Regions from separate parts of the Homo sapiens genome. Here region 2 is linked to region 1. The links come from fine-mapping of genetic effects on gene expression. A gene starts in region 1. The other region holds a variant in brackets. All regions are shown on one strand. Distances are from middle to middle. Region 1 holds the start of ZMYND19 (zinc finger MYND-type containing 19). Region 2 overlaps DPH7 (diphthamide biosynthesis 7).

What was found. PIP is the estimated chance that this variant, and not a neighbour inherited with it, causes the effect. A credible set is the group of variants that fine-mapping cannot tell apart.
Region 2: its variant is the best candidate, but not a certain one, in a credible set for the expression of ZMYND19 in fibroblasts (GTEx, PIP 0.55).

The regions. Positions count from the first base shown.
Region 1 is chr9:137,588,515-137,592,892 of GRCh38, forward strand. ZMYND19 (zinc finger MYND-type containing 19) reads right to left here and starts at 1,998. Exons shown (of 6, transcript NM_138462.3): 1 at 1,699-1,998; 2 at 145-204. The coding sequence starts at 1,749. LOC124902318 (a long non-coding RNA gene) reads right to left here. Exons shown (of 3, transcript XR_007061885.1): 2 at 4,291-4,356; 3 at 2,525-2,594. RefSeq lists enhancers at 1-43, 44-561, 1,084-1,133 and silencers at 1,404-1,453, 1,504-1,613, 1,894-2,283, 2,474-2,543.
Region 2 is chr9:137,557,228-137,561,605 of GRCh38, forward strand. All of the region lies in intron 8 of DPH7 (diphthamide biosynthesis 7), which reads right to left. Among named protein-coding and RNA genes, the nearest start is that of MRPL41, 7.5 kb to the left of the region's middle. The variant T/C (reference allele first, on the strand shown) is at 1,800.

The sequences.
Region 1 (4,378 bases):
ACGGCTCAGGGCTCACAGGCCAGCACCAGTTGTCCACTTGTGGGGCCGCCTGCTCTTGCAGCACAGGGGAGAGAGCTCGTTCCTCGTGACCCTCCTGGGCACTGACCACGAGCATCAGGGGAGGGAACAGCCATCCTTACTTACCTCAAAGGAGTAGCTCTCCACCAGCGGGATGTCCTGCTCATCGATCAGCGTGTATTTGGTCTGGAAGTTAACCACATGTTTCAAATCATTACATTTGGGATCTGCGTGAGGTGCAGTAACCTTATAACCAGAACAGGCAGGAGCCTGTTGCATTTTCCTGTGAAGTGGAAAGTAACTACAGGCCTCTTCAGACCAAGACAGCTCAGCACATGGGGGCCTCATTCCACCGTTTGGGGTGGTGCAGTCTACGACAAAACACAGGCAGACAGGTTAAAAGCCAGCTGCCCACTTTAGTCTGCGCCAGAGGAGCTGGTATCAGGCTTCATCCTCGCAGGGCTAACCCCAACAGTGGCACTGAACATTCAACGCACCAATAAACCTAGGCAAAGACTGTTTCACTGAGCTGAGGGAGGGGCCGGGGCTGAGGCAGAAGAGCCAGAAGGTTTTGATTAGGGTGTGTTTATTAAGCTGAGCTACTCACTGATTACCCTTTTTAGCTTTTTGTCCATCTGAAATGTTCCAAAGAAAAGCTGTAAGGGATGACAATGCCATCATGGGTGGAGTTAGAAGGGGTCTCTGGTCTCCGACCTGACTGGAGAGCCCACCCTTCCCTGGTGGAAAAAAGCCTCCTCCCCAGCAGGCCCTGCCTATGCTCTTGCAGCAGGGGCAGGAAACAGGAACAGGTCCCAGAACGGGCCAGTCTCCCTCTTGGCAGTTTTTCTTCTGGGATCTGAACCTGTTTTACCTGACGCCGCCTGACACTGCCTCGGCTCCTCTCTCCCACCAAAAGCCGCAGCCGCTGGTGACGGGAACAGGGCTCCCATCCGGGTAAGGACCCTGGCTGGTGCAGCTGCACAGGTGGCTCCGAGAAACCGCCAAGCCTCAATGCCCACAGGTGCCATGGAATCCCCAGCCTCAAACGTGGAGCGTGGGGGCCAAGTAAGAAGAGAAGTCGAGGAAGGCCCTGAGTCTGCAGCATCAGGGCCCAGGCTTCTTCCTCTCTGCTCCGAGTCTGAGGCTCAGCCTAACGTGGCCAACCCCTGGCAGCGTTAAAACGAGCCTGAAGCCCTGCTGAGAACTGGGAGGCACAGAAGAGCCCACACCAGACCCGCCTCGGCGAGAGGTGTGGAAGTGGCGCTGCCTCGGAAAGGGCGCTGTGTTTAAACCGTGTGGCCGCACTGGCAGCCCGGACGCCGCGCTAGGCCCCGGATCGCCGACACCACTGGGAGGGCTCCGGGAGAACGCGGCTCGGGCTCGAGCCACGCATCTCCGCACCCGGCTCGGGACAGGGCCGTGGCCTCCACCTCCGGCAGGGCAGGGCCGAGGGTGGCCAGGTGCACCCCAGAGCCGAGGGGTGCGTGCCCGCCGGCCTGCGAGAGGAAGCTGCACCCGCGCGGGGCCAGCAGCCGGGCCCGCGCAGCGTCCCCCGCCCCGCTGGGGCCCATCCCGGGCTCCGCGCCCCCGCCCCGGCCGCCGCCCGCACAACCGCCCCCGGCCCCGCGCGGAGGCCTGGACGGGCGAGACGGGCCGGGTCGCGGGCTCCGCGCCGCTCACCTTCCCGGCCACCCGGCCGAGCCGCACGATACCCAATTTGAAGTCGGTCATGGCCGGGCCTGCGCTCTCGGCCGGCAGCGCCGCTCCCTCGGGAGGCGCCGAGCGGGGGCCGGGGCGAGGCCGCGGCGCGCCGGGACAGGACGGGACCGGAGCCGGGGTCGGGGTAGCAGCCAGGCGGGCTCCGGGCGGGACGAGGCTGGGCCGGGCTCGGGCCTCCGCCGCCGCCTCGCGCCCGCCGGACCTGCCACGCGCCGCCGCCGCCGCCGCCACCGCCACCGCGCGCACCACAGCGAGCGGAGCGGAGGGGCGGGGCGCAGCCCCGGACACACCCCCCGGCCCGCCGCCGCTCGGCCAATGGCTAGGCGCGCACGGCGCCGACCGGCGCGCGCCGCCCCGCAACAACCAATAGGAGGAGGGCGAGTGCGCCGGCGCTCTGGGGAGCGGGGCGAGCGCGGGGGAGGGGCGAGGCCGGGGGCGGTGCCTGCGCGCGCCGACGTCAGTTTCGCGGGAAGCTTTGTGCGGGCAGCGGCGCCGCGCCTAGAGGGGCAGTGCGGAGTGTGGCTGGGGACTCGCGCCGGGTCCGTGGAGCTCTGCGAGCTGGCTGCTTTTCGCCTCCCTTGCGGTAGCCTCCGTAAGCTGTTTCCCGCCGCCGTCCTGGCCCCGAGCGCGGAAGGAGGAGGTGGACGGAGCTCGTGCGGGGCCCTCTGGGCGGGCGGGGAGCGGGCGAGGCGGGCTAGGAAGAGGCCGTTGCCGCGGGACGCGGGTGTTTCTGGAGAGACAGCGGACGCCCGGCCCACGCGACCCGGAGGGCGCGGCCTCCCGCGCAGCCTTCTCCGAGCCGCCGGCTCTTCAGCCTCGGGGGCGGCTGACCTCCAGAGCAGCCTGGTCCAAGGCGTCTGGAAACGGAACTCCAGTGAGGCCCATTAGGCTCCGCGGGAAAGCCGAGACCCGCTCAGGGAGGGACTGGGTACGCCGTGGTGGGCAGCGTGGCTCCCCTGCAGCCTGGAGCGAACGGGGCTAGGTCCTGCGTCCTGCTCCGCCGGTGTCCAGTCGCCCGTGAGGAGGCCTCACCCTGCCTCAAGGGCGACTCCTGCACCTGAGGAGCTGCACAGGCTCCTTTCTGGCTTGCTGGGTTCCGTTTTCTTTTCTTGCTTTTTTTTTTTTTTTTTTTGAGTCAGAGTTTTGCTCTGTCACCCAGGCTAGAGTGCAGTGGCACGATCTCGGCTCACTGCAGCCTCTGCCTCTCGGGTTCAAGCGACTCTCCTGCCTCAGCCTCCCGAGTAGCTGGGACTACAGGCACGCGCCACCATGTCCGGCTAATTTTTGTATTTTTAGTAGAAGTGAGGTTTTTCCATATTGGCCAGGATGGTCTCGAACTCCCAACCTGAGGTGATCGGCCCACCTCGGCCTCCCAAAGTGCTGGGATTACAGGCATGAGCCACCGTGCCCCAGCCTGCAAAGGGTGTACATGAGTGAGCCCAGACGTTCCATCTCTGGGTCCCCTGGTACTTGCCAGTACCCCAGACACCCTAGAGGACTGAAGGGGCTGATGAGTCCTGGCCTGCCTGAGACACACATTGGGGTTCAGGCTGGGCCTTGCTCAAAACATGCCTGTCCGACCGCGCGCGGTGGCTCATGCCTGTAATCCTAGCACTTTGGGAGGCCGAGGCGGGCAGATCACGAGGTCAGGAGCTGGAGACCATCCTGGCTAACACGGTGAAACCCCACCTCTACTAAAAATACAAAAAAAAAAGCCGGGCGTGGTGGCGGGTGCCTGTAGTCCCAGCTACTTGGGAGGCTGAGGCAAGAGAATGGCTTGAACCCGGGAGGCAGAGCTTGCAGTGAGCCGAGATCGTGCCACTGCACTCCAGGTTGGGCGACAGAGCGAGACTCCGTCTCAAAAAAAAAAAAAAAAGTACCTGCCCTACCAATCTCAACCTCATGGAGTTGCAAGGGTGTGATGAGATTATGAGCAACTGCTTTGTGAAAAGAAGTGGAGCTTGGTGGGTGCTCCCTAGGGTAGTTGAAAAGCACTGGTGTCATAGTCCAGGTTCCCCCAGAGGTTGACTTGAAATGGATTCGAGTCCAAATTTTGTCCGGGCCTGGTGGCTCATACCTGTAATCCCAGCACTTTGGGAGGCCGAGGCAAGTGGATCACCTGAGGTCAGGAGTTCAAGACCAGCTTGGCCAACAGGGTGAAATCCCGTTTCTACTAAAAATACAAAAATTAGCGGATGTGGTGGCACACACTTGTATTCCCAGCTACTTGGGAGGCTGAGGCAGGAACATCGCGTGAACCCAGGAGGCAGAGGTTGCAGTGAGCCAAGATTGTGCCACCACACTCCAGTCTGGGCAACAGAGTGAAACTCCGTCAAAAAAAAAAAAAAGTCCAAATTGTTAGCTTGAGAGAAGACCCCAGGAGACACCAGCAGGAGAGTAGGGGTGTGAGGCAGGGAAGGGGGTGCTACCAGTCCAGTTACTGTAGCAGGCGCTTGTGTAGGAACCATCCTCAGAGTCCCTCCCCGAGGGCCAGGGGAGCCAAGGCATTCACCCTTCACCCTGCTGCAAGGGGACCCAGCATTCACCTCTCACCTTGCAGTCATTGGTTGGAGGCTGTTCCTGGCAAGGTGACTTCTTGGCTCCAAAGCCGAGAAAGACCTGCAGGTGTTGACACAGCGCA
Region 2 (4,378 bases), 31 kb before region 1:
CCGGGCGCGGTGGCTCACACCTGTAATCCCAGCACTTTGGGAAGCCAAGGCGGGTGGATCACAAGGTCAAGAGATCGAGACCATCCTGGTCAACATGGTGAAACCCCGTGTCTATTAAAAATACAAAAACTAGCTGGGTGTGGTGGCATGCACCTGTAGTACCAGCTACTCGGGAGGCTGAGGCAGCATAATTGCTTGAACGTGGGAGGTGGAGGTTGCATGAGCCAAGATCGTGCCACTGCACTCCAGCCTGGGTGAAAGAGCAAGACTCTGTCTCAAAAAAAAAAAATTGTTTAAATTAAAGATACAGGCTGGGTGCAGTGGCTCACGCCTGTAATTCCAGCACTTTGGGAGGCCGAGGCAGGTGGATCACATGAGGGCAGGAGTTTGAGAGCAGCCTGGGAAACATGGTGAAACCCCATCTCTACTAAAAGCACAAAAATTAGCCAGGCATGATGGCGCATGCCTGTAGTCCCAGCTACACAGGAGCCTGAGGCAGGAGAATCCCCTGAACCTGTGAGGTGGAGGTTGCAGTAAGCTGAGATCACCCCACTGCACTCCAGCCTGGGCGACAGAGCAAGACTCTGTCTCAAAAAAATACATAAATAAAGTTATGAAAAAGGCCAGCCGAGCACAGCGGCTCACGCCTGTAATCCTAACACTTTGGGAGGCCGAGGCGGGTTGATCACCTGAGGTCAGGAGTTCAAGACCAGCCTGACCAACATGGTAAAACCTCGTCTCTACTAAAAAATACAAAAATTAGCCAGGCGTGGTGGCACACACCTGTAATCCCAGCTACTCCGGAGGCTGCAGCAGGAGAGTTGCTTGAACCCGGAAGGTGGGAGTTGCAGTGAGCTGAGATTGTGCCATTGTATTCCAGCCTGGGAGACAGAGCAAGACTCCGTCTCAAAAAAGAAAGAAAAAGAAAAAAAGGCCTATACAGAGTACCTGACAAAACTGGCCTGGAATGTTGAACTCTCAGACCTGTCTTAGTTCACCTCTTCAACTTTAAGAACTGAAGGCTGGATGCAGTGGCTCAAGCCTGTAATCCCGACACTGAGGACTGAGTTGAGGCAGGAGGACTGCTTGTGTCCAGGTGGTCCGGGCTGCAGTGAGCTCTGACTCCACCACTGCGCTCCCACCTGGGTGACAGGACACAAGACCCTCTCTTTAAAAAAAAAACTAAAAACTCACCATAGCCAAAAGGTGAAAACAACCCAAATGTCCATCAGAGGATGAACAGACAGAATGTGGTCCATCATTACCTTCTTAAAAAGAGAATTCTGACACATGCTCCAACAGGGGTGAACCTTGAAAACGTTAAGCTATGTAAAGAAGCCGGATATAAAAAGACACACGATTCTACTTCCATGAAATATCTAGAAAAGGCAAATCCCCATAGACAGAGTAAACGGAGGTTATAGAGGCTGGGGGAGGGATGTTTGGGGTGATAGAAAAGTTTTGAAAATAAGTAGCAGTGATGATTGCACAGTATTTTGAATGTCTTCTTTTATTTTTTATTTTTTTTGAGACGGAGTGTCACTGTCGCCAGGCTGGAGCGCAGTGGCGTGATCTCGGCTCACTGCAACCTCCGCCTCCCAGGTTCAACCGATTCTCCTGACTCAGCCTCCCAAGTAGCTGGGACTACAGGCGCCCGACCTCAGGTGATCCGCCCGCCTCAGCCTCCCAAAGTGCTGGGATTACAGGCGTGAGACACTGCGCCCGGCCTTGAATGTCTTTAATACCACTAAATTGTGGGCGGCAAGCCACCCAGGCACCGAGGCAAGAGACCGAGGACA[T/C]GAGCTGTTCCAGTAAAATAAAATATAAAACAAGAATAGTTATACCAGATATAGATCTTAGATAATGATTATATATGAATATCATTAATCATTAGTTGGTAGTAATTACTCTTTATCCCAATATTATAATAATCCTCGCTCTACAATCATAACCTAGGAAAAACCAGGCCATACAGAGATAGGAGCTGAGGGGACATAGTGAGGTGTGACCAGAAGACAAGAGTGCGAGCCTTCTGTTATGCCTGGACAGGGCCACCAGAGGGCTCCTTGGTCTAGCGGTGACGCCAGCATCTGGGAAGACGCCCGTTGCCAGGCGGACCATGGTCTAGCGGTAGCGAAAAATGTGAAGGAAAAACACCCGCTACTTAGCAGACCTGGAAAGGGAGTCTCCCTTTCCCCGGGGGAGTTTAGAGAAAACTCTGCTCCTCCACCTCTTGTGGAGGGCCTGACATCAGTCAGACCTGCCCGCAGTTATCCGGAGGCCTAACCGTCTCCCCGTGATGCTGTGCTTCAGTGGTCACGCTCCTTGTCCGCCTTCATGTTCCATCCTGTACACCTGGCTCTGCCTTCTAGATAGCAGTAGTCAATTAGTGAAAGTACTAAAAGTCTCTGGTATGCAGAAATAATAGCGTAAGCTGTCTTTCTCTCTCTCTCCTCTCCCTCTCTGCCTCGGCTGCCAAGCAGGGAAGGGCCCCCTGTCCAGTGGACACGTGACCCACGTGACCTTACCTATCATTGGAGATGACTCACACTCTTTACCCTGCCCCTTTTGCTTTGTATCCAATAAATAACAGTGCAGCCAAACATTCGGGGCCACTACCGGTCTCTGCACATTGGTGGTAGTGGTCCCCCGGGCCCAGCTGTCTTTTCTTTTATCTCTGTCTTGTGTCTTTATTTCTACACTCTCTCGTCGCCGCACACAGGGAGAAGCCCACTGACCCTGTGGGGCTGGTCCCTGCACTAAATTGCACACTTAAAGTGGCTAAAATCATGCATTTTATGTTACATAAATTTTATCACAATTTTTACAAAAGCAGTTAAAAGGCAGGAGACCCAGTGTGTGCCCAACAGACAATGCTGGAGTGTGTTTAAGAAACTCAAGCAAAGGAAATGCAAGTCAAGGGATTAATGGGCAAGTTCTCCTTCAATTATCAAGGCTACAGAGAAAAGTATCAAGTATTCAGAAGTCTAGGAAACACCACCGAGGGCCTCTCCTAAGCGTCTCTCAGGAGGCAAGCTCTATCCAAACAGGCGGTGGCTGGGAACAGCTGTCACCAGGATGGATGGGAGCACAACAAATAGTCAATTGCGAGCTGAGACTTAGGAAAAAACAGGTGGGGCAAGGACAGAAAAATAATATGTTAATGCTGTGTTCTGAGTAGGAAAAAATGCCATTAAGAATGGGAAGAGATGGCCAGGCGTGGTGGCTCATACCTGTAATCCCAGCACTTTGGGAGGCCGAGGCAGGCAGATCACAAAGTCAGGAGATCAAGACCATCCTGGCTAACACGGCGAAACCCTGTCTCTAATAAAAATACAAAAAATTGGCCAGGCAGGGTGGCTCACGCCTGTAATCCCAGCACTTTGGGAGGCCGAGGCGGGCGGATCACGAGGTCAGGAGATCAAGACCATCCTGGCTAACACGGTGAAACCCCGTCTCTACTAAAAATACAAAAAAAATTAGCCAGGTGTGGTGGTGGGCGCCTGTAGTCCCAGCTGCTCAGGAGGCTGAGGCAGGAGAATGGCGTGAACCCGGGAGGCGGAGCTTGCAGTGAGCCAAGATCCCACCACTGCACTCCAGCCTGGGTGACACAGTGAGACTCTGTCTCAAAAAAAAAAAAAAAAATTTGCCGGGCGTGGTGGTGGGCACCTGTAGTCCCAGCTACTCAGGAGGCTGAGGCAGGAGAATCGCTTGAACCCGGGAGGTGGAGGTTGCAGTGGGCCGAGATCGTGCCACTGCACTCCAGCCAGGGCAACAGAGCAAGACCCCATCTCAAAAAAAAAAAAAAAAAAAAGAAAAAAAGAAAATCACCATTTTGCCATTACCATAATTTATTCAAGCACCAATTGTCTCTGAATTGGGTAAAAGTCTGAAAAGGGAGTTATTGACACAGGTTCAAAGATTCTCACCACAGATTACTGATTAATCCCAAAGAGGAAAATAGTATCTCTTCAGTGAAGGGATTGGGGCAAACACCACCTTAACAAAGTGACCAAATTTCACAAAAATGGAACAATGTGGCATCATAGGCCCTTGATGTGAGGAACTAAGGAGGGCACAGCGCCACTTTCACAGGTTTCCTGGCAAAAATGCACGACCCCGGCCAACATGGTGAAACCTCGTCTCCAATAAAAATACAAAAATTAGCCAGGCGTGGTGGCAGGTGCCTGTATTCCCAGCTACTCGGGAGGCTGAGGCAGGAGAATGGCGGCGTGAACCCGGAAGGTGGAGGTTGCAGTGAGCCAAGATAGCGCCACTGCATTCCAGCCTGGGTGACAGAGCGAGACTCCATCTCAAAAAAAAAAAAAAAAAAAAGCATGACCCCATACCAAAGACTCGCCTCAGACTCAGGTGTGAA